Homo sapiens: one gene and its partners. The protein of the gene in region 1 interacts with the protein of each later gene in a pairwise test. Each region holds a gene or a part of one and is shown in the gene's direction. Other genes may lie near its edges. The genes, in order: PLLP, CLEC12B, TMEM174 and FAM174A.

Region 1 (7,023 bases):
CTCCTGACCTTAGGTGATCCACCTGCCTCAGCCTCCCAAAGTGCTGGGATTACAGGTATGATCCACCATGCCAGGCCTTGTTTTGTTTTGTTTTGTTTTGTTTCTGAGACAGAGTCCCACTCTGTCCCCCAGGCTGGAGTGCAGTGGTGCAATCTCAGTTCACTGCAACCTCTGCCTCCTGAGTTCAAAGTGATTCTTCTGCCTCAGCTTCCTGAGTAGCTGGGACTACAGACACCCACCACCATGCCCGGCTAATTTTTGTATTTTTACTGGAGATGGGTTTCTCCATATTGGCCAAGCTGGTCTTAAACTCCTGTCCTTAACTGATCATGCACCTCAGGCTCCCAAAGTGCTGGGAATACAGGTATGAGCCACTGCGCCTGGCCAGAGCCTGTTTTCAAATAAGGCCACATTCCCAGGTACTAGGGGTTAGAACTTGAACATATTTTGGGGAACACATTGCAAACCACAATAAGAGATGAGGAAAAACTTCCCTCAGAGTCAGTGAAGGGCATGCACCCTGCAGGAACCTGGCCTGTCTGGCTGTCAGTGTTGGCAGCTTCTGGGGAAACTGTAATAACAGGGTTTCACTGCAGCAAGGAGTGCCTCTTGGTTGGGCATTTGTGACGAATCTTCTCTCTGATGCCACAGGTGGTTTTAACAAAAACATCTCTTCGTTACCCAATTGTTTGGAAATTCTTTGAAGATGCAAAGGTCGTTTTTGACACTGTAGTCTTCATATGTAAAAAAAAGTTCCTAATCCAAATTATTCAGGTTTTCAGAAAAGCAAAAAAAAAAAAAAAAAAAAAGGCCCTGTGCCCTTGAGATTTCCAGACAGTTCCCTTTGTTTATCTGCAGGACCTGTCTGGGGAGGCATGGCAGGGACCTCAGAGAGCTGGGAAGGAGGGGAGGATGTGGTTTGCCTGTGTGTGTAGGAGAGAGACAGTTAGATATTCATGTAGACACCTCCAGAGAAACACGGGGACAGACGAACATGTAAGCAAGAGAGACCTGCAGGGCCCAGGGGTGAAGGCATAGAGTTCTGTTCTCAGATACCCACGTGGCACCCTCCCTGCCCCTCCCTCACCTCCCTGGGTCTTTGCTTATCATCACCTTGCCAGTGAGATCTTTCTTGGCCCCTTCTCCATAGACATTTGTTAAATATATTAACCCAGAGAGATGCCCACAGCGAGGCCTGTGTTGGGTGCCCTGTTCCGAGCAGGGTCTCTCTTGGGGGACTGGGCTGGGGGCTCAGGAACCAGGAGAAACCAGTCTGTCTGGTTCAAATGCAGGAACGAACCTTCCTTGTTCTAGGGCAGAAACCGAGGCAGCTCCGCAGGCACAGAGCCAGGCAGCACAGCCAGAAAGAACGCCAGAAATTCCCAGTCCTTATCCACCGGCTTCATCTGGACGCTGTGTTCGCTGATCTGGAAACCAGGGGTGGGGCTGGAGCACAGCACAGGGCGGGGCAGGGATGGCGGCGGGCAGTGGGGGGAGCCTGGGTGCCCAGCCCAGACTGGCTCCTAGAGCCAGCTGAAGTGTCCTCATTTTTTACACTTCACTAAATAACTCATAGTAGCGCAGGTTCCAAGGAAGCACGGATCTGGGTTCCTGTCCTTCCCTATCCTTTTAAAATTTTTATTTATTTTTTGAGACAGGGTCTCTGTCACCTAGGCTGGAGTGCAGTGGCGCCATCATGACTCACTGCAGCCTTGACTTCCCAGGCTCCATTGATCCTCCACCTCAGCTTCCCAAGTATCTGCGACCACAGGCACATGCTACTATGCCCAGCTAAATGTTATATTTTTGGTAGAGATGGGGTTTTCCATATTGTCCAGGCTGGTTTCGAACTCCTGAGCTCAAGTGATCCACCTGCCTCAGCCTCCCAAAGTGCTGGGATTACAGGTGTGAGCCACTGCACCCGGCCTCCTGCCCTGTCCTTTACCCACAGTGACCTCAGGCACATTGCCTCCTGAGATTCCCTTTGGAAGATGGGAATAACAGATAGAACATTTGAGGAGGGTCTGGTGATGGAGGAATCAATGAGATGTGTCTGGCACAGAGCGAGAAGGCATTGAGTGGTTATTGTGACCTAGGCTGTGAGTCATGGGACAGGTGATTGATAGGCATATGATAGTGGAAACCTGAATTGGTCTTTTCTTGATTTTTGGTTCATTGCATTTTCTGACTTTCCTTTAGTTAGTTGGAAGCTGGCAACACAGTGGCAGCGGAGGCCCATGAGGAATTGGCTTTAAATGAAAAAATAATTGTTTATCTTGGACGCACCCAGTTCTCACCTGGAGAAGGGACGGAGGCGTGCTGCCCGAAGTGTTTGTTCTCCTTCAGAACACTGGCCTCCCCCCAGCTCTGGGGGTTCGTGGCCTCTCCAGGTGTGTCTGTTTCTGGCAGGGTGTTGTTCTGAGACATCCTGCCCTGGGTCCACACTCGTAAGGGCTCTGCCCCCAGCTTGGTGTGTGACAGCGGGCAAGGCCCTGTGGCTCCGCCCTGGCTTCCTCACCTGCCTACCCTCACCTGGCCTGCTTGCGGCGGTGAGAGTGCTGACGGGCAGCAGAGGCTGGCAGGGTGCTGTGTGTTGGGGGGTGGATCCCTGGAGCTTCACCCCAGTGTGGGGAGGAGCAGGTGCTGAGCCCTGGAGAGCGGGACACCTTCCCTGGGCCTCCCACTTTGGGCTGAGCCCCTTACTTGGGTTGGGGGGAGGCAAGGCCAGGGGCAGTTCACAGATGGACACCTGCTTCTTATTAATTTATTTTGTTAATTTAATTTTAACTTTACTTAATTTTAATTTTATTTATTTTCGTTTATTTTGAGACAGGGTCTTGCTGTTGCTCAGGCTGGAGTACAGTGGCACAGTCATGGCTCACTGTAGCCTCAACCTCCCAGGTTCAAGCGATCCTCCCCACTCAGCCTCCCAAGTAGCTGGGACCACAGGTGCACCATCACCACACTCGGCTAATTTTTAAAGTATTTGGCAGAGATGGGCTCCCTGTATATTGCCCAGGATGGGGTCTTGAACGCCTGGGCTCAGGCAATCCTCCCACCTTGGCCTCCCCAAATGCTAGGATTACAGGCATAAGCCACCACGCCCAGCCCCACTGCTTCCTCTTTTAATACACGGTGCCTGTGCAGGGCAGGGTTCTGGTCTCTGTCATGGTTGAAGAAATAGGATTGTTAGTTCCTAAGCACATTGTGTATTTAGCGTATATTATGTGTCGGGCACTGTTGGGCACTGAAGATACAGCAGTGAACAAAACCCAGAATCTTCCTCGGAGAGCAGGGAAGGTACTCGGTCAGCATCACACAGCCACACAGCTTTTGACTTCCAAGCTCGAGGCCCCACCTGCCACTTCCCCACTGGGCCATACCCTTCCCAAGCCAGATCCCTGGGGGATGGGGAGTAGGCCGAGGAAGGAGGGTTGTGAGGGCTGAGGGCTCCCTGGGCCAGCTCAGCTACAGGCCCCCGAGTCTTGTCCCTGGCTTCTGTAGGGATCCACACAGGAGCTTCCCTTCTGGTCCTCGACGAGGTTGCTTTTGGATGGGGTGCCTGGCAGGCACCCCAGCTCTGTCTGTGCTCTAGGCCCAGGCCCTCAGGTGCTCTAGGGGCTGGCGGCAGCCCCTCAGCTGCTGGGAGCAGCCAGGACTTTCTGTCTCCAAACCCTAGCAGCCAGAGGCAGGTCCTGCTCCGGAGCCGCTTCTCTGATCCCACTGACTTGTCCTTGGGCTGGTGGCAAGGTCACTACGCAGCCTTGGTGCCATGTACCTGGGCGCTGACCAGGGGAAAAAGAGGACACCTCTGTGTGTCTTGATTGGCAATGGAGCCTTTCTCCAAAGCTAGACCCTCGTGTCCTCTCCGTGGCCAGGGATTCCAGAGAGTGCCCTCGTGGAGAAGGCGCTCTCCAGAGCATCTCCACCAGCAAGGGGTGGGTGGGGGTAGGAGGGGCTGGGGAGGCCCAGGATGGCCACATCCGAGGTGCCTCTGGGGGCCTCCACGAGCTCCCTGGGCCCTGCCTCAGCTGGCCCTTTGCTGGCCTGCACCCTGAGACAGTCTGCATAGTGAGTCGACAAACCTGCCGCAGAGAATTCTCTGTGGCTGTGAGGGCTGGGGCCTGTGCAGTCCAGTTCGGGCTTGTGGAATAATAAAAAAACACTTCTGCTGCAATCATTTATGTGCATGAACTTGTGGGTCCTCACAGTAGCTCTACAAGATAGGAATGGTCATTATATGATAAGCAAGGGTGGTTATACACTTGCCCACGGCCACACAGCCGGTAAGGAGAGCCGGGATCGAAGCCAGACAGCTGGGCTCCAGAGTTCATGCTGTTAGCCACTACCCATGCTCTGCTGGGATGGTCAGGCCCATCCTGCCGTGTGGGAACAGCCTGACAGGTAGGCCCCTTGGCTTCCTGGAGGCCCAGTTTCACCTGTGAGATGGCAACACCTGTATAGAAGGGCATCTGGGAGAGCCGGAGACGTGGGGTGTTGGGCAGGAGGTCACCCAGAGGCCCTTGTGACGTTCTCTGCTGGGCCCAGCTGGGAGGGAGGACACAGGGCTGTTGTCTTCCCGCCTCTGGGACTGTGGTGACTTGATCTTCCTTTCAGCAGCTTTTACTGAGCCCCTGGCAGGGCCTAGGGCCTGTGCTGGGTGTGGGGACGTAGCTGTGAGACAGCCACGGCTGTGCCCTCGTGGAGCTCGCAGTCTGGGGAAGGGAACGATTATGGCCCTGGATGGTGGGTGCCTGGGGGGCCCTGTGAGCACTGATGAGGGCTCTGGGATGCCGGCTGGAGGCGTGGGGGTGTCCTGGAGCACCTGACATCTCAGCTGAGACCTGCAAGAGGAGTGAGAGTGCAGGGCAGGGCCCCGGTACAGTGGTGTATCACACGAGCCAAGTCAGCATTCCTTTTTAAATTTTTTTCTATTTTTTGAGACAATTTCACTCTGTCTCTGAGGTTGGCATGCAGTGGCATGATCATAGCTCACTGCAGCTTTTAACTCCTGGGCCCATGTGATCCTCCTGCTTCAGCCTCATGAGTAGCTGGGACCACAGGTGCGCACCACCATACCTGGCTAACTATTATTATTATTATTATTATTTTTGCTTTTTGAGACGGATTTTCACTTTTGTCTCCCAGGCTGGAGTGCAGTGGCGTGATCTCAGCTCACTGCAACCTCTGCCTCCCAGATTCAAGCAATTCTCCTGCCTCAGCCTCCCAAGTAGCTGGGATTACAGGCACACGCCACCATGCCTGGCTAATTTTTGTATTTTTAGTGGAGACAGGGTTTCACCATGTTGGCCAGGCTGGTCTCGAACTCCTGACCTCAGGTGATCTGCCTACCTCAGCCTCCCAAAGTGCTGGGATTACAGACGTGAGCCACTGCGCCCGGCCTTAATTTTTCTGTAGAGATGGGGACTTGCTCTGTTGCCCAGGCTGGTCTTGAACTCCTGGCCTCCAGCGATTATTACACCTTGGGCTCCCAAAGTGCTGACATTACAGGCATGAGCCACTGTGCCTGGCCAGTATTTCTTAGCTAGATAAGAAATGAAACCGCATCTCTGGCCAATCCTGCCTTGTCTGACCCTCCTAGGTGCTGGGGCTGCTGGTGTGGGCGCTGATTGCGGACACCCCGTACCACCTGTATCCGGCCTATGGCTGGGTGATGTTCGTCGCTGTCTTCCTCTGGCTGGTGACAATCGTCCTCTTCAACCTCTACCTGTTTCAGCTGCACATGAAGTTGTACATGGTTCCCTGGCCACTGGTGGTGAGTCTGGGTGGGGGTACTGGAAGTGGCTATGACAGGACCACTGTGACTTTCCCTAGAAGAAGTGGCAGGGTGTGGGGGGGTGGCCTGACATCCTCACTGACCTAAGCTGATCTGCAGAGCCAGGGGTGGAGGTGAGGATTGATGGTTCAGAGGTCCAGTTTTTCTATTTTTCCTTCAAGACAGTGTCTCACTATGTGCAGGCTGGAGTGCAGTGGCTCAATAATGGCTCACTGCAGCCTTGAACCCCTGGGCTCATGTGATCCTCCCATCTCAGCCTCCCCAGTAGCTAGGACTACAGGCACGTGCCACCATGCCCTGCTAATTTTTATTTTTATTTTTTGTAGAAGAGGAGTCTCACTTTATTTCCCAGGCTGGTCTTGAACTCCTGGGCTCAAGCAGTTCTCTCACTTTGGCCTCCCAAAATTCTGGGAGTACAGGAGTGAGCCACCATGCCTAGGTGCACGGTTTTTTGGGGAACCATGAGCCAGGAAGGACACAGGCTTGACTTTGTCCCAGGAGGGGAGTAGAAGTGAGGGGCTGTTGAGTGGATTTGTAAGAGGCCATTTGGAATCTTAAAAATATTTTTCCCGGCCGGGTGTGGTGGCTCACGCCTGTAATCCCAGCACTTTGGGAGGCTGAGGTGAGTGGATCACCTGAGGTCAGGAGTTTGAGACCAGCCTGACCAATATGGTGAAACCCTGTCTCTACAAAAAATACAACAATTAGCAAAATACAACAATTAGCCAGGTGTGGTGGCGCGCGCCTCTAGTCCCAGCTACTTGGGAGGCTGAGACAGGAGAATTGCTTGAACCCAGGAGGCGGAGATTGCAGTGAGCCGAGATCACACCATTATACTCCAGCCTGGGTGACAGAGCAAGACTCCACCTCAAAAAAAAAATTTCCCTCTGGGGGTGGTCAGAATTTGTGCCTGTGTTGTGTGAGTTTGTGAGATTGTAGCTTGGCCCAGGTAGGCAGCCCTGTGGCTGGAGGCTGTGGCAAGCTGTCAGAAGTTGCCCAGGCCAGGGCCTCAAGTGTGCAGGACAAGCTCGGGCACCTGGCTGCCTGCAGGTGAGGCCCTGAGGCCTGGGAGAGGCTGGGCTCCCCAGGTTTGCCCCAGGACAGTCTCCCCAGGACACAGGGCTGAGAGCGGACATGGGAAGTACCCCGGCCAGACACACAGAAAGCTGCTGGTTTTTTTTTTCCTCTGACCCGGAAAACCCCTGCAGCTGGGGTCTGAGGCTTTC
Region 2 (7,350 bases), on another chromosome or scaffold:
CCATTCAGATACGTGGTCCTGTAGATCAAGCGCTGGTATGGAGATAACAATTTTTGGACATTATCAATGTATGGCTGTTATCTCAAGGCACGAATCTATAAGAAATTAATTCCCATTCTGGCCATTCTCTGGGTACTATTCAATTTAGTTCATTCCAGGATAAGTTTTTTGTTTTTTTTTTAAGAAGACCAAGAATTGAACTCTAGGACACAACAACATCTTAAATTAATTTAAAGAGGAATCAGTTAATCTGAGGGAGGATTGGGTTGTGAGTGAAGCAAAAGGAAAACCAAGAGAATGGTGTCCTAGGGAACAAAGCATTTTGGAGAAGAAAGTTTGTCACGAAAAGTGAATAATCAGTTATTTAAAATTCTGTTTATACGATGTGTAAGATGAATCCTGAGAACTAGCCATTGGATGTGTTTATACTGAGGTAATGTTGACTTTAGCAGGAGTGTTTTTTAGAAATAGTGAAAGAAGGGCCAGGCGTGGTGGCTCACGCCTGTAATCTCAGCACTTTGGGAGGCCGAGGGGGACAGATCACGAGGTCAGGAGATCGAGACCATCCTGGCTAACACGGTGAAACCCCGTCTCTACTAAAAATACAAAAAATTAGCCGGGCGGGGTGGCAGGCGCCTGTAGTCCCAGTTACTCTGGAGGCTGAGGCAGGGGAATGGCATGAACCTGGGAGGCGGAGCTTGCAGTGAGCCGAGATCGCGCCACTGCACTCCAGCCTGGGCAACAGAGCTAGACTCTGTCTCAATAAAAAAAAAGAAAGAATAAAAATAAAAAAAGAAAAAAAAGAAATAGTGAAGGAAAAAGCCTAATTAGAATAGGTTTGGGAAGATCATAGAGAAATTTTTGAACCCATTTGTTGTTAAGAAAATTAGAGAAATGGAGTGATCATGTGTATGGTGTTACGGTGAACAAAAGATGGCTTCTGCTTGTTTTAATATAGGAGATATTATATCATCTTTGGAAGTGAACATAAGTGAACAAGTAGAGATGAAAAAAATGGAAAAATTGATAGAAAGAGAAAAAGAAGGAAAATTACAAGCTTGAAATCTTTAAGGAGATAGGTGGATGGATTTTAATATACAGATGGAGATTGATCTTAGATGAGTAGTACAATTCAACCACTGTTGAAAAGAATACTACCTCATATACTGATGTAGCTGTTTTGGTATATTTGACTAGTGAAACAGAGAAAACTTCTTTCTGAATTTCTTTTTTTTCTTAAGATAATGTTAATGGAAAAGCCAGGTTATCCGTTTAGTTTGTAGAAAGAGAAGACAGAAAGAAATTTGAGAGTCTGAGAAAGAAAAAGAGATTGGGAATAATCTTTTAGGAGATTTGCAGAACAGATTGATTAGTAAGAGTGCTGAGAAGTTACATTTCAAAAACGTAAGATAAAACCAGTTAATATGATCACATTCAGCTACTTGAATGTATGCACAGAGTAGGTAGGGTTGGATTTAAACAAGCTGCATTTTCTAGATGCTTATGATGAATGAAGAGGTAAGCAAGGAAGTTGTAGCTGTGGGTAAGAAAACGATTTTTATAATTGGCCCTGGTAAGTGGTGCATGCTGGGTATAATAGGAAATGAGACATGAGGGATTGACAACAATGAGAAGTTGGCATGGTCAGTGAAGTTGCTATCTCAGTGGGCACTGAAATGCTGTAGAGTGTAGAATACCCAGAGAGAGTGGGCTGGAAACATAGGAGGTGGAGGTCAGAGAGTGAAATATCTGAAACAGATCATGGAAGAATTTCTCATATTGGAAATGAAATTGTCTGCACTCTAGTGCAGTGCTGTTCAATAGCCACGTTGCTAATAATGGAAATGTTATTTACCTGCACTGTCCAATTGCATAGCCAATGCCACCTGTGGCTGTTAAGTACCTGAAGTATGACTAGTGTGACCTAGGAAATAAATTTTAAATTTAATTTAATTTTAATTAATTTAAGTTTAAATAGCAATTATATGCCTAGTGATTACTACGGTGAATAGCCTAGCTCTAAACTAGGATCATCTAGTGGGTGACTGATTTTTGTGTGTGAGCAACTGATTTCTGAGTGTGGGTAAGGTTATTGGAGGCAAATTCAAGAACTGAGAGCCCATAGTATTGGAATTATCACCTACCTGAATGTCGAAATCACATGATAATCATGATAGGAGTAGAGATCAATAAGATTTAAGATAGTTGAAAAAATAATGAAGAAATAAGGAGAATTTGGTAAATGACTGCAACAAAGTGAGTTTTTAAATAGTGTAACTGATAAAATAAGCTACAGAAATGCTGTAAGTTTTTAAGGGAGAAAAGTATATAAAGAAATGTCTAAATTAATATGATCATACACTAATAATGATAGATGATATAGCTTTTTGGATCATAATAATAGAAAGTATGTGAGAAGTGTTATCAATCTTCTCTTAGAAATAATTAGGAATCAGGTGACATTCTTCATCATTGTTCAAGCTAAGCATCATTTCATGGATAGTGAGAAGTTAATACTTTGTTAGGAAGCTTTAAGGTATGTGAAAGAATTAAGGAAATGAGGATGAAAACCCAGTTTTTGCAAAATCTGGTGAAAGTCATGAGACGTGAGGCCAGCCAGACTTCCTGAATCGAGTGGGGACTCAGGGAACTTTCCTGTCTTACAAGAGGATTGTAAAACGCACCAATCAGTGCCACGTAAAACGCACCGATCAGCGCTCTGTAAAACGCACCAATCAGCAGGATTCTAAAAGTAGCCAATTGCGGTGAGGATTGAAAAAAGGTCAGTCTGATACGACAGAAACGGAACATGGAGGGGACAGTAAGGAAATAAAAGCTAGCCACCCCAGCCAGCAGCAGCAACCCGCTTGGGACCCCTTCCATGCTGTGGAAGGTTTGTCATCCTGCTCTTCACAATAAACCTTGCTACCACTCAGTCTTTGGGTCCGTGCCATCTTTAAGAGGTGTAACCCTCACCGCAAAGGTCCGCGGCTTCATTTTTGAAGTCAGCGAGACCAGGAACCCACCGGCAGGAACCAACTCCGGACACGGACCAGAACAGAGATAGAAAACCATTCTTAATTTCTTATTTTTGTAATCATCTATTTAAACTGGTCCTCATGTCAATGGTCTCTGCCTTTTCTGAATTCAACTAGAATAGTAAACATAAGCATAGATTTATTATTTGTTTCAATATTTTTGATAGTGGAGTTTTATTGATATATGACTTAGAGCCTCCAAACATTTTTTTGATTATTTCATCAATTTGAAAAAAAAAAAAACAAAAAACATGAACAAGTAACATATGTATATTTAGGTGTTTAGAGATCATGCACAGCGTTCCTAAAGAGAAAGTTTTTACATTGCCTTTCTGCATCTGCTTCACAGCTGTGGGGTGAGTGCACCTCACGCTGGACACCTTTGACTAAGATAATCTCCACACAGATATGAACCTTGGAAGTTTTAGATCACTCCCCACTCATCTGAAACCACAAAACTCATACCCAATCCTTCCCCTAAGTACAGTTATCTAATATTCTGCCTCTCCCCAAAGGAAAGCTTTAGAGGAGATTCCTTAATTTCGTCCCTCATATATAGCGCTCCCCCCCCATATTTTCCTGGGTTCTGTATTAACTACATATTGCTGCTGTAACAAATTACCACAGATGTATTAACTTCCGGTAGTTATCTTTTTAAAATCTTGTCCTGTGTATTCCTTGCTGTCTGCAGGATTATCCCATGGTTGTTGTTCTGTTAGGAACTTTCCCAACCATGCCAGAAGAGGGCACTCCCATTCATACTCACGTTAAGTAGCTAAGTAGCTATCAGTTTCTTCTCCATGCTCCATTACCAACACCATGTCTCTCTCTCTCTGTCTCTCTCTCTCTGTCTCTCTCTGTCTCTCTCTCACACACACACACACACACACACACACACACACACACGCTTGAATTTTCTATAATAGCAGCCAGGTGTGTGGCACAGCTCTTTCTGTCTTAATGTGTGTCTCTCTGCTTAATATCTAATGTGGCTGAGAATAAACTAGAACCAATGTCTCCAGGCAGATTAGCTAGCCTTAGATAGATGTAAAGAAGACAACCTGACTCTTTTCTGAAACATTCAGAGCATCCTCTACCCCGAGGATCATGGGAATTCCCTCATGTTCCTCCTGCTCTGCCTCAAGCACCCCTTCTTTGCTGCACAGCAAGAAACAGTTCTGACAGAGCAGACAGTTTGAGATCTGTAACATTCTAATGAGAATATCTCTAAGGAGAATATTTGGCTTTTCTCACTTTCTCTGTAGAGAAACAAATTGTCATTCTTCTCTTACAGAGGGGCAGTAGAGTGTGTCTGGGTCAGCTGAGTGACTACATCAAAGCTCCCAGCCTTGAAAAACACATGCTGTTCCCAGGCCTCAAGATATTGAAACATTAATTAGATAATTTAAAGTAGCGTTTTCTTCTACAATGTCTGAAGAAGTGACCTACGCGACACTCACATTTCAGGATTCTGCTGGAGCAAGGAATAACCGAGATGGAAATAACCTAAGAAAAAGAGGTAGGAGTTCAGAGAAGACCAGCTGTGTCCTTGGGGGAGTGGACAGGTGTTAAATGCTTTGAGGTGCCAGCTTTAATACTGGCGTTAAAGACATGTGCTGTGAAATCTCCAAAATGGGGACAAATAGTTGTGGAATGTATTAGAAAAGTGAGTGTTCCCAAGGTTGAAGTGAAAATATGTGGCTTTCAGAACCTCTTTAAAGTTGTGTGATATCACACAGTCAGAGAAATTCTGACTGCACATGCCAGAAATTGAGCTTGGGGAATTAGAGATTTCTTCTTATGAATATAATCCTTGATATTTATACCTTGTTAGAGATGCCAGGAGGATATTCTTTCAGAAACCAGATTGGAGGCTTCTAAAATAGAGAAGGTAGAGGACGTTTTTCTTTTAGATGATGTAAGTTACTTAAGAGAAAACTGGAAGATGAGTGAGTGGATTAGAAATAGATCAGAGCTAATTTTTCTTTTGTCAGTATTTTTTCAAATTTTAGGGTAGTTGAAATCCGAGCATAATTTGTAATGTTGAACCAGTAATAATAGTATCTGGGTAGTATTTTATGTACATTATATACAGATATAATTGTAATGAAAATCCACAATAATATTCGAATATTAGTATTTTCTCCATTACATAGATGAAAAAACTGAGGGTGAGAGAAATTAGATAATTTAAGCAAGCTCACACAACTGCTATGTGGGGAAGCCCAGTCTCAGTGCTGGTCTTCAGCTCATTCTCTTATGCCTAATTGGAAAAATAGCAGTCTCCATGGTCAAGACTCTGATTTAATATATAAGACCACATCTCTTATTTTCAGATATGTTAACTATCCAGGTTCTCCTGAATCATGTCAGTCATCTGAACTACTTTCTCCTGCCCTCTAGATTTATCTTTACATTTTGTGTGGTGCATGACATTTGAGGGAAGGATATTTACAAAAAGCCGATGGGAATAGACTTTGCATATGTCTAATAAATGTGGTTACACATTTTTGCCTTGTTTTGTTTTACTTTTTAATTCTAATTCTAACCTGTGAGGAAAAAGGAGGTGTGGATATGGTGCATATCACAGTGTACCTAGAGTCTGTCATGCTGTATCTAAAACATTGCGCTAGATGTTATTTGGACCTAAATCAAGGGATATGAAGCTAAGGAAAACATGACAACCATTGATATTTTAAACAACAACAATGACTAGGATGCTAACGGCTTTCTGGTCTATTCTGCTGTTTGTAGGTTAGACTGCACATTCTTTCCTTCTTTCATTCAGTATTCATTCATTATTTATTAGGTGATAAATAGCATGAATAATAGATAAGTTATTGTTAACAGGTAAAAGATACTTTAAAAAGTCGAATCCACTTTTACAAGGCAGATAGAACATGTGCCTTATAGAGACTTTTGAGCTCAAAAGCTTGAGGTGTCTCCTACTGTCAGCATCATCCAGAAAAGCAGTTTTTAGATCTCTCATTTATGAATTCAATAAACTTGAGGAAGAAAAGTGGGCAATGATGTAAAACAAAAACCTTGAAATTAGGAGAAGCTTCCTTTTTATTTTATTATTATTATACTTTAAGTTTTAGGGTACATGTGCACAATGTGCAGGTTAGTTACATATGTATACATGTGCCATGCTGGTGTGCTGCACCCATTAACTCGTCATTTAGCATTAGGTATATCTCCTAAAGGTATGCCTCCCCCCTCCCCCAACGAAGCTTCCTCTTAAAGTGAAGGAGAGCGGTGGAGAAATGGAGGGGAAACAAGGATGGCACCCTCATTGCACTTCATATTAGGTATTTTCTAAATGAGGGCATTAAAGAAGCAAGAAAGAAACGTTAGTATCGGGAAGCTCCCTAAGTGGGAGAAATAAACAAACCAAAGTGAAACAAGCACAAAGCAGTTCTGTGTGCTGATTGCTCTTTTGGCTTTCTCCAGGGCATCCAGCTCCATCTCCCATTTGGCGTCATGCTGCTCTGGGTCTGGTAACTCTTTGCCTGATGTTGCTGATTGGGCTGGTGACATTGGGGATGATGTGTAAGTATATCAGCATCAAACCCAACAAAGGCAACTAGAAAACATATTGTAAACCATGTACTTTCAGCTTGGATTGTAGATGGGTCCTAGCATCCTGAATCGTCTGATACTTTTCTGCTGTCTCATATCTCTCCTATTCGTCATATCTTCCCAAAAAACCGGCAAAAGACATTATCAGGATTTGGTTCTAAATTCATTGTTTTATCTTGATAAGCTAAACTGGACTTAGACAAAGACTCTTTGTTTCCAGTTATTCATTAGAATAAAGAGCCTCTTTTCTGCCTAGACACACATTCACTTATCATTCCAATGCTGAGAAATAAAGTCAAGAAATATGTATTGAAGGAAGTGCTTGCTATTTTTATTTACCTGAAAGACTTAACACTAGACTAGGTTCAGTCTGCTTACATGAAACTTCTCTAGTGGAGAGAAATCTTCCAAGTAGCAGCAGCAGCCTGATTTCTATGAATGAGAAAGACATATAAACAAAGAGGAAGAGTGGCCTGATACACCTTACCAAGTAAGAGAGTTGAACCATCTCCACATGACAATGGAAGCTCCACTCTCAAGCACCACAGCCACAAAGGAACATTCTATTGATTCTGACCCATCCTCGGGAAGTTGGGGATGAACATGGTAGGGAGTTCTTGAGTAATGAGAAAAACATCCTGAGAATACAAACTTTATAGGGTTGTTAAGTATATGGTATACAGAGTAGTGAATTGGCATGGTATTCGCTTACAGGGAACTCACAGTCAAG
Region 3 (7,198 bases), on another chromosome or scaffold:
TCTCTCAGCTCAGACAACATGGACAACCAAATGTCCTGCTTGAAGTTCTGCTCGCTAGGATTTCCATTCTACCCTATTTCTAGCATCTTTCAGGGACACTCCTGATGGGTGTCATAATGCTTCAGCAGTCCACTGTTGTGCAGAATAACGTATACACAAGACCTAAGATTTTTTCTCCTCAGTCATCTAGCTGGGAAGAGCTCCCTACTAGGCCATAGGTTTGGATTGTAGGAGAAGATGCCACACAGTAAGAGTAAGTGTAAGGCTCTGAACCGCCTGTTTATGTAGTTACTTGTAATTCTAGACCTGCTCATGTCCAAGTTCTTAAATACCATTTTTACTTGATAATGAATCACTGCTGTGCATGCTCAAACTTACAGTTGTGTGGGTCAGATATGCTCAGGTCATGATTGGCAGCTCAGGGGTCATTCAGTGTCCTAGGGTGATGCAGGGCCCAGTAGCCAGGGCCCAGTAAAGAATCATGAGCTGTGTCTCAAAAGAAGAATAGCTGCCTGCAGAAGCAGCATGGATTTTCTCTAAAACCCTGGAGGCCTGCGCTGTGGTTTTATCTATGATTACTCTGTACAGCATCACTACTTACCATAGATACTTTAAGTATCATTGTCTATTAGGGTTCTCCAGAGAAACTGAACCAATCGCATGTAGATATAGATACTGTTCCATGGTAAGCAGGTTTATGCAAACCTATCCTCAAAGGCCATGGAAGCTAAGAGGCTGAGGAAAGAGGCTGACAAATCCAGTTTCTCAGAAAGGAACATATAATAGGGACTTAAGAACAGAGGCCATGCTCCTGGAAGCCATGAGACAAGATGGTGGATCCTATACCATTACTCACCAGACCCAGAGCTTACATACCTCAGGGAAAGGGTATGTATGCTTCAGAAGGGATGTGTAGAACAATTGCTTAAGGTCAGGATTTATGGTAAGTACTATAACATTAAAGTTGTTTTGATCTAAGGGCAGGGCTTACAGTAAGTACATGCTCTCATGCAAGGAACAGTAGATAAAACAGACTTTTTTTTTTACTATACTTTAAGTGTTAGGGTACATGTGCACAACGTGCAGGTTAGTTACATATGTATACATGTGCCATGTTGGTGTGCTGCACCCAGTAACTCGTCATTTAACATTAGGTATATCTCCAAATGCTATCCCTCCCCCCTCCCCCCACCCCAAAACAGGCCCTGGTGTGTGATGTTCCCCTTCCAAAACAGGCATTTTAAAGGCATTCCTGGAACGAGTTAGACAGCAGTGAACACGGTGGGTTAGCATCTAAGAGGGAGTGGCTGTAGCCTCCACAGATGTATAGCTATATAGAAAGATATCTATTTAAATTTTGTTGACTTTTGGTGATGTCAGCCCTGTAAATATAGGATACAAGTTTCTTTTAGGACCACCACAGAAACTCTCTGGTTCTCTGACTGTGACTTGAGCTGAATTTAAAGACCTGAGCTTGTTACTTTTCCTTTTATAAGTATTGCAGGGCATTCTGAAGTGGCCATCTCCATCCCACAGAACTTGCAGTTCATCATTATTGTCATAGTGATTAAGTGTAGCAGCCAGTTGGTCCCCAAGGCATTTGCTCCAATAGGCAATTTTTCACAACCTACTACAGGTGCTATTTTTATTAGTTTTGATGCCACTTCATGCCATGATCTACTAATATCCCATGTTTCATTGATGAGGACTCAGCATTGTATTTGAGGCCAAGAATATGACCAAATCAATTCCAGAATCCCATCTTCACAGGTATGTTTCCTAACCCCACTGTGAATACGACATATCAGTCAGAATCACTTAGGGAAACAGAAACTATACCAGTTATTTTAATAGAGAGAATTTGGTATAGGAAATTAGTTTAACAGATACTGGAGGATTGAAAAGGCAAAAAATAAACACTAAGAACACTTAGACTTAGTGAAAGCAGGCTGGGGGAACAAAAGGAAGAGGTTGGGCTTATATTAGAAATCAGAAGCTTGGATAAGGGCCCTTGTGGAGCTGGGATGCAGCTCTCTGAGTAGAAAACGTCCTTCAGCTAATGCTGGCATCTCAGGAGCTTGGACAAAGAACAGTGGCTGGTGTTGGTTTCCCTGAAGGGGCACAGTGAGGCTGATTGGAGGGCAGGAGGAGGGTTCTGGAAACTGGAACTGTTACTGCCAGGAAGAAGAACTGTTGTTGGAGTGACACTGACAGTAACAGCAAGCAAAATAGAAACTGCTAAGTGCCTTCTCCTTTCTCCCACCTTGAAGTCTCCCTGTAGCACCCCCTATTGGCAAAGCCTAACTGGAGCAGCCTGGGAAAGGAAAAGTGTGCTTTGAGAGTCTGAGACAAAGAGAAGTTTAGAAAGGTGGGTTTGGAGCTGAGTCACCATAGCTTAATAATCAGCATAGTTTTCTTGACTGTAACCTGGTTGTTAAAAGAATGAAATTATGTCACCTATATTAAATGTATAGAATTACACCTGGTACATAGTAAGTATTCAATAAATGTTTCCCCTTCACTCATCAATTGAGATGATCGTGTGTTGTTTTTTCCCCTTCATTCTGTGAATATACTGCATCACATAGATTGATTTTTGTACGTTGAACCAGCCTTGCCTTCCACTTGGTCATGGCATATAGTCCTTTGAATATGCTATTGAATTCAGTTGGTTAGCTTTAAAAAAAAATTGCTATTTACCATCTAGACAGAGGTGGGGCTTTTGGAAGAAGCAGCTGAGTCAAACGGACCTTGAAAATGTAATTGGAGAACTTTCTGATCTTTCTGCTCTGAAAGCAGTTCCAGTTTGCATTCATGAGCTGTCTAAAGGAGGGTGATCTGTTTCCTCTACTCTCTCAGGCTTCCCAGTTATTCTTAGTGGATATAGCTAAAGGCAAATGGAAAACATAAATTGAGTGATTTAGAAGACAGTTTTGAGATCCTAGCTTTTTTCTAAATGTCAGGGATTGTTTTGACTGTTAACTTAGGAGTTAAGAACCTGAAAATAATGGCAGGCTAACTTACCAGAAATTTATAGTTAAAGAGAAAATCTGGCTTTCCTGGATCTCTGATCTAGCTCAGTGGGAAAAAGGGCAGCCTGTTCCTATAGCAACTCCACTCCAGCCTTGCTGCTCCAAGGCACATCCAGGAAGATACCTCAGGGGTCACCTGCTTGCTTTTCCATCTGTTTGGCAGTGAAGTAGGAGATTACAAGCCTTGTCCTGTAGCAGGGAGAGGCATTTTCATGGGGAAAAATGTCCTTTGGTCTCCTAGAAGCATTTAAGGTTAACCTGGGGTTGGGTTTCCTAAGATTTCTTGATGATGAATCACCTGAGGTCCTTCCCTTGGATATTTGGTTCTGTTGGTCTGAAATGGGAGCTCACATTTTGTCCTTTAAAAAAGTGGCCCATGTGATTTCTTTGTCAAGGGAAGTTTAGGAAGCCCTGCCTTAGGGCAAGACGGCAGCCCTCTCAATTCTGCAAAAGGAGCTAATATAATATTTAATTACTGCAGAGAGCATCGGCTTGAATAAAATCTGTCTAGGAAGGAAAGAAGGCTACAGTTATTAATCAGTGGAGGAAGAAACTCATGGGGCTGTTTGGAAGTTTTGCAGTCATGAATGACAGATAATGTTATTGAAAATTAAACTGTCTTCTCTACATCAACTTGGGTTTGGTTGTAAAACATAGTAGGTTCCAAAACACAGCTGGTTGTTTCACCTTGAAGACCAGGAACTGTGTGGCCACCATGGAGGGAGGGTCCGAAGCATGTGTCCTAGTGAGCCAGGTCATATCTGATGCTTATTCAACCACTGGCAGTGATGCAGTGCATAAAAAGGTTTCCTATGACGTTGTTCCTCTCCCAAAGCTGGAATTACTCCCCAAACGCAGAAAGCAAAAGGCATGTGGGGCTGGCCAGAAAAGAACAGGATCTCAGGGCTTTGTGAGAACTGTTATTAAAGTTTAAGTATCATCACAGCTAGGGGTTCTTGAAGTAGATAGGAATACACACGCAGTCAAGAAATAGGTGTCTGTCTATTCCTAATGAACTGAACCACTAGGTAAATCAGGTTAGACTCCTGTGCATGTGTGGATATATCAAGGGCCCCATTCACTGCTGGAGACCCTTGAGGGAGCTCTGCCATTTCTACAAAGTTGGGTAGGACAAAAACAGGGTCTTATGGCAGCGTCTTAAATTGCTATAGAAGAGTACCTCCTGGGGCCAAGGCAGGAGGAGCACTTGAGTCCAGGAGTTTTGAGACCAGCCTGGTCAACATAATGAGACCCTATCTCTACAAAAAATTTTAAAAATTGGCTGAGCATTGTGATGTGTGCCTGTAGTCCTGGCTACTGGAGAGGATGAGGTGGGAGGATCGCTTGACCCAGGAGGTTGAGGCTGCAGTGAGCTATCATTGTGCCACTGCATTCCAGCTGGGTGACAGAGTGAGACCCACACCCTAAAAAAACAAAACAAAACAAAAAAAAGAAAAGAAAAGAAAAAGAAAGAGAAAGATGGGCTCAATAAGTTAATTTTTGAATGTGTGAATGAATGAATGTGAATTAGAGAGACAGCTTGTCATTGACTTGCAAAACAGAGACCTCCACTTGTTGACAATACATGAGAAAACTTCAGGCTTCATTTCTCAGACCTTTATTCTTCTAAACAAGGTCCAGCCCTCTGTGTGTTACACCCTGTTAAGCACAAGCCCTAAGTTCTTCTATAACTAATTTGGACCTGTGATTCCTTGGTTCTCACAATCCTCTCCACTCTAAGAAGCAGGGTGAGCCCACAAGGAGCAATGGAGCAGGGCAGCGGCCGCTTGGAGGACTTCCCTGTCAATGTGTTCTCCGTCACTCCTTACACACCCAGCACCGCTGACATCCAGGTGTCCGATGATGACAAGGCGGGGGCCACCTTGCTCTTCTCAGGCATCTTTCTGGGACTGGTGGGGATCACATTCACTGTCATGGGCTGGATCAAATACCAAGGTGTCTCCCACTTTGAATGGACCCAGCTCCTTGGGCCCGTCCTGCTGTCAGTTGGGGTGACATTCATCCTGATTGCTGTGTGCAAGTTCAAAATGCTCTCCTGCCAGTTGTGCAAAGAAAGTGAGGAAAGGGTCCCGGACTCGGAACAGACACCAGGAGGACCATCATTTGTTTTCACTGGCATCAACCAACCCATCACCTTCCATGGGGCCACTGTGGTGCAGTACATCCCTCCTCCTTATGGTTCTCCAGAGCCTATGGGGATAAATACCAGCTACCTGCAGTCTGTGGTGAGCCCCTGCGGCCTCATAACCTCTGGAGGGGCAGCAGCCGCCATGTCAAGTCCTCCTCAATACTACACCATCTACCCTCAAGATAACTCTGCATTTGTGGTTGATGAGGGCTGCCTTTCTTTCACGGACGGTGGAAATCACAGGTATGGCGTGTCTACTGGGGGAATGCACTCCTTCTAGCCATCTCCGTCATGATCTGTGGCTGTTTGGTCCATGAATAAGGTGTTGGGAGACTGTGAATCTCTTCTTAGCCTGTTGCCCACGATGGCAGCCTTGGTTCTGTGAATGGTGCTTTGGACCATAATGTACCTGTGTTTTCTGCTCACATTTCAGGCCCAATCCTGATGTTGACCAGCTAGAAGAGACACAGCTGGAAGAGGAGGCCTGTGCCTGCTTCTCTCCTCCCCCTTATGAAGAAATATACTCTCTCCCTCGCTAGAGGCTATTCTGATATAATAACACAATGCTCAGCTCAGGGAGCAAGTGTTTCCGTCATTGTTACCTGACAACCGTGGTGTTCTATGTTGTAACCTTCAGAAGTTACAGCAGCGCCCAGGCAGCCTGACAGAGATCATTCAAGGGGGGAAAGGGGAAGTGGGAGGTGCAATTTCTCAGATTGGTAAAAATTAGGCTGGGCTGGGGAAATTCTCCTCCGGAACAGTTTCAAATTCCCTCGGGTAAGAAATCTCCTGTATAAGGTTCAGGAGCAGGAATTTCACTTTTTCATCCACCACCCTCCCCCTTCTCTGTAGGAAGGCATTGGTGGCTCAATTTTAACCCCAGCAGCCAATGGAAAAATCACGACTTCTGAGACTTTGGGAGTTTCCACAGAGGTGAGAGTCGGGTGGGAAGGAAGCAGGGAAGAGAAAGCAGGCCCAGCTGGAGATTTCCTGGTGGCTGTCCTTGGCCCCAAAGCAGACTCACTAATCCCAAACAACTCAGCTGCCATCTGGCCTCTCTGAGGACTCTGGGTACCTTAAAGACTATAAAACAAAACAAAACAAAAACATCAAACCAATGAAATAAAATAAATCATGTCTCCTGCTAGAATAGTATTGGATACCTGACTAAATTACACAAAATAGACCATAATAGGATAGCGCTGTGAATACATCCTTCCCGATCACTGAGTCACAGTGACCCTTGGCTGCTGCTGTTCTCTTCTGCAAGGTTGAAGCTTGACGTGTGATGAACATGGGTGGGCTCTTGGTCCACCCCAGGCTGGGGCCTGCGCCAAGCATGAACTAGCTGGGACCAGTGGCTGACAGAACACAGGACTTCCCTAAGTACCCGTAGGTCTGTGGAGCAAGACAGAGCAGAGTTGCCATGTCAACACATGGGGAATGATATGATAGAAACAATCTTTATGACTAAAAGAAACTCATCTTCTTCATTAAAAAAACTTTGGTGTCCTTAATCTCTCTGAATTTGGCTGTGTAATAAACAACTGGAACTGACTCACAGACTTTAGAAGAGACAGTTTAAAACCATTAGGTTTTAAAAGAAAATATTTGCTTTGGGCTTCAAAGGCAATGCCACTCAAGGTAAGGGTGGTACATCCTAAAGGAAGACACAGGATTAAGCAATTCTTAAAAAAATTTTGACATAGCGTTTGTATATGGAGCAACTTTTACTAATTTTGATCAGAAGTATCTAGGTTTCCAAGGATATGAGTGAAGTAAGCTTGGTATATTATTGTTGTCATTTATGTTATATCTTGGGGACAAAACCTTTTCACATACACTGTCATGTTTGATGATAGGTGATAAGTGAAAATGATTTCATTTAAAGAAACTAGCTTTATGTTCAGCAGATCCCTGAGACACTGGTCCCTAGCTGAGGGCCATTGGTTTTGGAGAAGAAGTTTGGTGACAAGGACCAGGCTGAGCATCACCAGTGGCATGCTGACCAGCAGAT
Region 4 (8,006 bases), on another chromosome or scaffold:
ACAATTTTTGCATTGATTTTGTATCCTGAGACTTTTCTGAAGTTGCTTATCAGTGTAAGAAGCTTTGGCGCTGAGACTATAGAGCTTTCTAGATACAGAATCATGTGATCTTCAAACAAAGGTAATTTGACTTCCTCTCTTCCTATTTGAATACCCTTTATTTCTTTCTCCTGCCTAATTGCCCTGGCCAGAACTTCCAATACTCTGTTAAATAGGAGTGGTGACAGAAGGCATCCTTGTCTTGTGCTGGCTTTCGAGGGGAATGCTTCCAGCTTTTATCCATTCGGTATGATATTGGCTGTGGGTTTGTTATAAATGGCTATTATTATTTCAAGGCATCTTCCTTCAATATCTAGTTTATTGAGCATTTTTAACATAACGGGATGTTGAATTTTATTAAAGGCCTTTCTACATCTATTGAGATAATCATGTGGTTTTTGCTTTTAGTTCTATTTATGTGATTAATTACATTTATTGATTTGCATATGTTGAACCAACCTTGCATTCCAGAGGTGAAGCCAACTGGATCGTGGTGGATAAGCTTTTTGCTGTGCAGTATTGGTCTATTCTGAGATTCAAGTTCTTCCTGGTTCAGTCTTGGGAGGGTGTATGTGTCTAGAAATTTATCCATTTCTATGAGATTTTCTAGTTTATGTGCATAGACGTGTTTATAGTATTCTCTGATGGTTGTATTTCTGTGGGGTCAGTAGTAATACCCCCTTATCATTTCTGGTTGTGTTTTTTTGATACTTCTCTCTTTTCTTCTTTATTAGTCTAGTCAGCAGTCTATTTTATTACTTTCTTCAGAAAACTAGTTCCTGGATTCATTGATTTGTTTAAGAGCATTTTGTGTCTCTATCTCCTTCAGTTCAGCTCTAATCTTGGTCATTTCTTGTCTTCTGCTAGCTTTAGGATTTGTTTGCTCCTGGCTCCTAGTACTTTTAGTTGAGATGTTAGGTTGTTAACTTGAGATCTTTCTAGCTTTCTGATGTGTTCATTTAGTGCTATGAAGTTCCCTCTTAACACTGCTTTAGCTGAGTCCCAGAGATTCTGGTATGTTGTCTCTTTGTTCTCTTTAGTTTCAAATAACTTCTTGATTGTAGCTTTAATTTCACTATTTCCCCAAGAGTCATTCAGGAGCAGTTTGTTTAATTTCCATGTAGTTGTGTGGTTTTGAGCGAATTTCTTAATCTTGAGTTCTAACTTGAATGCACTGTGGTCTGATAGACTGTTATGATTTAAGTTCCTTTGCATTTGCTGAGGAGTGTTTTACTTCTGATTATTTGATCAATTTTAGAGTAAGTGTCATGTGGCAATGAGAAGAATGTTATGCTCTGTTGTTTTGGGATGGAGAACTCTGTAGATATCTATCAGGTCCACTTGATTCAGAGCTGAGTTCAGGTCCTTAATATCTTTGTTAATTTTACGTCTTGATGATCTGTCTAATATTGTCAATGGGGTGTTAAATTCTCCCACTACTATTGTGTGGGATTCTAAGTCTCTATGTAGGTCTCTAAGAACTTGCTTTGTGAATCTAGCTCCTCCTGTATTGGGTGCTTATATATTTAGCATAGTTAGCTCTTCCTGTTAAACTCTTCACCATCATGTAATGCCCACCTTTGTCTTTTTTGATATACTCTTTTTTAGCACTGTGCTAAATTCTGAGTATTGAGTAGTGAATAAATGAGATTGACCCTTGCTTCATAGAACTTAGGTTCAAGTGGTAAAAATAATCACACTAATTTTGGAATCTTAAGTGTGTGTTATAAATGAAACATACAAGATCTATACTACAAATTTTGTAAACTGCTGTTTTAGGTAGAGTGGACAGGATAGTTTGTCTCTTAGCTGCTTTCAGGGAGCAGGGTAAGGCAGTTGCTTCTGGCTGGCAGAACTGCAAGGATTAGGCATCTTAATGTTGAGTTTCAGTGTAAAGAAGCCCATTTGTGGTACACCCTAGTGTCAGCTTCCAAATGGCATTTATCAGTAATAAAATGCCCTTTTGATTTCCCATCTTCCTTACTCAGAACTTCATTCCACATTATAAATGGAATAGAGTTAGTATTTAATGCCTCTCCCAAAAAATAGAATAGAGTTAGTATTTAATGCCTCCTCCCAAAAAAGTCCAACATTCAACTTGTCAAAAAAAAAAAAAGGAATGACAAAAAAGAAAATGTGCATTATCTTTCCTTCCTTCCAAAATCTGATTTTGTCATGTTCTTCATCTTGATTAATGGCATTATCATTCTCCCAGATGTGCAGGCATAAAACCTTGGTATCATTTGTTACCCCAAATTCCCATCTGCAGCAGTCCTTGGCAATAACTGGGACATGCAAAGAGCTAAATGATTCTGAAATCTTAGAATCAAACTATTGTTTCCAAATGATTAGGAAAGCTATGTTCTAATGTTTCTCAAAATGCAGCTCTCAATTACCCAAAACAGAATAAGAAAGGGAATTTGTTAAAATTGGAGATTCTAGATCACTATTTTAGAAATTCTGGACAGAATTTTTGGAAGTGGAGACATGGACTATATATGCATTTTTAACAAGCTCTCAGAGTGATTTTCATGTACACTGAAATTTAAGAATCTCTTTCCTTTCCCTTACTACCTGCATCCAGATATTGTCATATCCTGTCCATTTCCCTAACTTTTTTCCCATTAATCCAATCCTACAGGCCTCTATAGCCCTAGGACTATATACTAACCTGCTTGGTGCCCAGCACTTTCTACCTTCACTTAAAATGGCTATATTACTGCCAGGATAAACTTTTTAAGTACAGATCTCTCCTGATATAGCAACCAACTAACTAAACAACAACAACAAAAACAAAATCAGATTTTTCAGAGATACTCAATTCTCAACAAAAGTGATCTTAAGCAGGCAACATACCTGGAAGTTACTGTGCTCTTTTTAGAATACCATATTGTTTGTAAAACATCATTATATAATGACATCTTGAAATCTGTCATGGGAATGAACAAAAATTTTCCTAGGAGAAGATACTGTGTTTTGTTTGTGCAATAGAAAGTTACAATTTTGAGCACAAATATCTATGTGAAATACAATCTTTCAAACTAAGTAAAATTAGTTGTTTATGAATTTTTCTCTTAATTTTAATATACTTGTTCATTTACTTGTTATCAATTGGCTTGCAAACAAGTTGTACCAAGCACAGGATATAAAAAAAAAATACATAAATAAGGGGAAAAAATCTCAGAATGAGAAATTTGTATCAGGTTACTGCCACATTATTATATTCTCCTAATTAATACCATGATTTGATTCTAGCTTCTTAATCAACTATTGCTAGAATAATGTGGCATAATCAATAACCATAGAAATATCAGTGGCATACAGCAAATAAGCATTTATTTTTCACTTCTTTGGTCAAGCTGGGGTTGACTAACTTAAGCTAACCTTGGCTGCATTTGGTGCCAGGCTATAGGTTTAGTCATAGTTTACGCCAGATATCCCACAGTCTACTAGGATCAGAGGACTAGCTGGGTCATATTCTTTTCAAGGTTAGGGCCAGAACTTTCTGTGCAGAGAGGGCAGGCAAGTGAAAGGGGGAAAGGAATAATGAGAGAGGTAGGTGTGTGTATGCATGTGTGTGTGTTTCTGGCTCTCTCTCTGTATATATCTACCTGTATCTGTCTCTCTTTTAGCAATGAAAACAATAACTTACTCAAAAGACCCACGTATACCCTTGACAGGCATCTCATTGGTGAGAGGTACATCATGCGGCCACTTCTAGTTATCTGCACAAATTGAAGTTCCATATTACTGAAGTCAAACAGGCAAGGAAGACATTATTGAAGACTACTGCTGTTGGGAAAGGGGATAAAACTCTTCTAATCTCAACTCCTCTAAAAGAAAAAAAGGAGTGGAGAGTTATTAAGAGCTATTTTGGGAAGATCACCGGCCACCTGAGTTTGCTGATTGACTTTACCCAAAGGAAAAGTAAATTTTCTCCTCCATGACAGGAGGTGGTTTTACAACTTGAAGCGAGAAGCCTACAACAGTTAGGTTCCTTTCCTCTCACACAAAATAAGAGATGGCCCACTACCTTCCTTGCTGATTATATTTCAAAGGCATGATGGCTTTCCATACCCTTGAGATAGTTTTCAATTATATAACTGGCCAGAAGCTTTAAAAAATATTTACATCTGAAAAGGGAAGAGAAATAACTTACAATGGTAAAGTTTTCTAAAGTAATTTTTTTTAATATACTTTAAGTTCTAGGGTATATGTGCACAACGTGCAGGTTTGTTACATATGTATACATGTGCCATGTTGCTGTGCTGCACCCATTAACTCGTCATTTACATTAGGTATATCCCCTAATGCTATCCCTCCCCCCTACCCCACGACAGGCCCCGGTGTGTGATGTTCCCCATCCCGTGTCCAAGTGTTCTCATTGTTCAATTCCCACCTATGAGTGAGAACATGCAGTGTTTGGTTTTCTGTCCTTCTAATAGTTTGCTCAGAATGATGGTTTCCAGCTTCATCCATGTGCCTACAAAGGACATGAACTCATTACAAGCAAATGCTCTTTAGAAAGGGAGGTCAGGGACCCATAGGCAGGAAAAAAAGCCTGCTTAAAGCTTGTAATGAAGCTAAGGAAAACTAAGCCCTTCTGGCTTACAGATTAAATGTGTTATTGCAGTTTGACACCAATGAATTCAGATTATGAGTTTCCAATCTCTCAGGGTTCCTGCATGAGAGAGTTGCTGTACATTTTACACAATCTCTTTTTGTCTACTTACTTTCTTAATACGCATCCTTGACCGCTCCTCACTAACAGTGAAAAGAACAATGCTTCCAAAACGGTCACGTCCTCGCTTTTTACACAAGTGCGCGTGCGCACTGGGCGCTAGGCCTCTGACGTCACCAAGTGCATCCGCCCCTACAAGTTAGCAACCGAAGGCGTCCTTAGCAGCAGTGGCCGCTGAGATGTACGAACTTCCGGTTCTCCGGGCAGCTGCCACTGCTGTAGCTTCTGCCACCTGCCACGACCGGGCCTCTCCCTGGCGTTTGGTCACCTCTGCTTCATTCTCCACCGCGCCTATGGTCCCTCTTGGAGCCAGCGTGGCGGGCCTGGCGGCTCCCGGGTGGTGAGAGAGCGGTCCGGGAACGATGAAGGCCTCGCAGTGCTGCTGCTGTCTCAGCCACCTCTTGGCTTCCGTCCTCCTCCTGCTGTTGCTGCCTGAACTAAGCGGGCCCCTGGCAGTCCTGCTGCAGGCAGCCGAGGCCGCGCCAGGTCTTGGGCCTCCTGACCCTAGACCACGGACATTACCGCCGCTGCCACCGGGCCCTACCCCTGCCCAGCAGCCGGGCCGTGGTCTGGCTGAAGCTGCGGGGCCGCGGGGCTCCGAGGGAGGCAATGGCAGCAACCCTGTGGCCGGGCTTGAGACGGACGATCACGGAGGGAAGGCCGGGGAAGGCTCGGTGGGTGGCGGCCTTGCTGTGAGCCCCAACCCTGGCGACAAGCCCATGACCCAGCGGGCCCTGACCGTGTTGATGGTGGTGAGCGGCGCGGTGCTGGTGTACTTCGTGGTCAGGACGGTCAGGTGAGGCAAAGCCTCGGTGGGGCACCCCCGTGGGCCTGAGATACGCAGGCCGGTGATCTCCAGCAAGGCTGACTTCTGTGACCCTTTCCCCCTTCCCCAGCATCAGGGACTCCTGCTTAAGAATATGATATTGACTTTCTTAAAGGCCTGTTACCTTTGGAGCAATTTAAACCTATAACTAATTGCTGCCTTTTGTTTATAAATGAGTGCCCTACCTCCAAATCTCTTCATCTGACCTACAACCCACGTCAGCCTCAAAGGGCACCCTTTCTCTGAAGTGAGGATAATCTTTATTCCCTAGAATTTTGACTACTCTGTCTTGTAATACTTCTACCTTTCTAGTCTAAATTTTTGTATACCTAACTGGTCAAAATTTTGCCAATCAGAATGCAAACTCTTTAAAGACAGGATATCTATTTAGTAGGTTTGTGAGTCTTACAAATTATTTGTACAATGCTGCCACTTAATAGGAAATCAATATATATTTGAGTGGATTAATAGTAATATAGAGGTGCCTTATGGATATTTTATTTTTATAAAATTCAGGAGAAGAAAAGTTCTTCCTTACTATCAGTGTTTCCTAGTATTGCCCTTTAATCTGCCACCTAAGTGGCAGAGAATCACCTTCCTGAAGAGTTGACATACAGAGCCAAGACCTCACCATTAGGAGAAGCCAGCAAAGAGATAAGGTGAGGGAAAGCTGTCTAGCAGTTTATTTCATTATAAAATAAGTGTAGAGGGTAGGTTTGCAGCTTATGTTTGTTTATTGTTTTCAAAATTCACGTTTTTCCCATAAATACCCTCTGTATTGTAATTTAACATATTTCTTTAAACTGATTATTTAAAGCAAAAGTTTCCTTTTAAACAAGTCGTTATTATCATGAATGGAAAACCAACATCACTTGGCTAGTTAAAAAATAGTGTAAGCCAGTGGTTCTTGACATGTGGGCCAGGGAACCACACAGGTGGGAGTTTCACTTAGACCTCTTCAGGGCATCTACAGTATTAAAACTATTTTCAAAATAATACATTCTGTTACAGGCTTATAGGGTACAAGTAGTTCATTGATATTGTTTCAGATTCCACATTGCAACTAATCTTTAAGAAACTGCTTGTCAAGTTTTGGTGTAGTAGTATCATAAAGGAATAACCACTCATATATAAAAAGGCTATTAAAATGTTTCTTTCCATTCCAAGTTTATATCTGTGCGAAGATGGAATTACTTTGTATGCTTCAACCAAACAACACATTGCAAAGGATTTAATGCAGAAGTAAATATAAAAATCTATCCATTTCCTATTTTTTGTTTCTATTTTTTATCTACTCCTATCACCTTAAGCCAGATATTAAAGGGAATTGGAAATAAGAATCTAAATGTCATTCTTTTTACGTTTTTTTCTTTTTTGAAAATATAGTTGTTTTTCATAAAAGTTATGTTAACTTGTAATGTGTTTACTATTATTTTAAATCAGTTGATAAGTATAGGTTTTCTCAAGTTTAATTAATATGGTAAAGTTGATATGTGTAATTCACATAAATATAAGTTATTTTGGGTTCCTGAACAATTTTAAGAATGTAAAGAAATCCAAAACAGCAGGCGTAAGCAATATTTGAGAACCACAGCTGTAAGAAATATTATTTGAGCTAGATATTGTTGGTTCACAAAGGCTAGCAAATCTGCACTCACACTCTAAGTGTTAAAAGCATATTACCACCAAACTGAGACTTTCTTCTTAATATAAAGAAAGATTAAAAGAATATTGAAACAAATTATTTTCCTCACTATATAACTGTTATTTACTGCTGTCTGTACATAGTTCCTATAAAAATGCATGGCCCCTTGAATGTTGTATCTCTTATACATAAAAATGATAAGTATAATGATAATTTGGGGGGAATATTCCTTCCTTGTTTTTTTCCTTTTGCTTCCACCTTTTTAATTATTTTAAATACACATATTTATTACCATTGATTTTCTGTCATTAATGTTGTAAAACTTGGACAGATACAGTCCTTCCAATATGATCCTATTGGATGACTTGGTAACATGATGTGTGTTAACAGCCAAATTCTGAACTATGGCTAATAAAAAGTGCATTCTTTAACCAGCATCTAACATATTCATGCAGTCCAAGTCCTACATTTAGTTGGCTGCCTGGCATCCAAAGCTTGAATGATGCTAACAATGTCTGGGCAGTGTTCCGAACTCATACTTTTTGCTTCCAGATTATGGTTTTCTTCATTATCTTGGTGAATGCTCATTTTGGCTCCCATTTTCAAACTATGTGTGACAGTGCACTGAAATTAGTTATTTGTGCCAAGGGAGAAGAATGGGCCAAAATCATTATTTTCTTAACTGATTTGAGGTGATGCAGAAAATATTTTACTTGTAAAATTTTATTACATTGAACTACATGAGACTTTCAAAT

The links.
Region 2: the proteins of PLLP (region 1) and CLEC12B interact in binary tests that used the Homo sapiens proteins (3 or more experiments, as listed by UniProt).
Region 3: the proteins of PLLP (region 1) and TMEM174 interact in binary tests that used the Homo sapiens proteins (3 or more experiments, as listed by UniProt).
Region 4: the proteins of PLLP (region 1) and FAM174A interact in binary tests that used the Homo sapiens proteins (3 or more experiments, as listed by UniProt).

The regions. Positions count from the first base shown.
Region 1 is NC_000016.10:57,260,650-57,267,672, reverse strand, and holds part of PLLP (plasmolipin), read left to right. Parts: intron 1-5,602; coding exon 5,603-5,776; intron 5,777-7,023. UniProt on the Homo sapiens protein: Main component of the myelin sheath that plays an important role in myelin membrane biogenesis and myelination. Plays an essential function in apical endocytosis. Regulates epithelial development through the regulation of apical endocytosis.
Region 2 is NC_000012.12:10,006,294-10,013,643, forward strand, and holds the start of CLEC12B (C-type lectin domain family 12 member B), read left to right. Parts: upstream 1-4,333; 5' UTR 4,334-4,466; coding exon 4,467-4,557; intron 4,558-6,491; coding exon 6,492-6,590; intron 6,591-7,350. UniProt on the Homo sapiens protein: Inhibitory receptor postulated to negatively regulate immune and non-immune functions. Upon phosphorylation, recruits SH2 domain-containing PTPN6 and PTPN11 phosphatases to its ITIM motif and antagonizes activation signals.
Region 3 is NC_000005.10:73,168,446-73,175,643, forward strand, and holds TMEM174 (transmembrane protein 174), read left to right. Parts: upstream 1-4,747; 5' UTR 4,748-4,798; coding exon 4,799-5,424; intron 5,425-5,614; coding exon 5,615-5,720; 3' UTR 5,721-6,698; downstream 6,699-7,198. UniProt on the Homo sapiens protein: Regulator of plasma phosphate homeostasis. Decreases serum inorganic phosphate (Pi) uptake by regulating the sodium-phosphate cotransporter SLC34A1 trafficking by PTH and FGF23 in the kidney.
Region 4 is NC_000005.10:100,530,389-100,538,394, forward strand, and holds the start of FAM174A (membrane protein FAM174A precursor), read left to right. Parts: upstream 1-4,985; 5' UTR 4,986-5,142; coding exon 5,143-5,576; intron 5,577-8,006.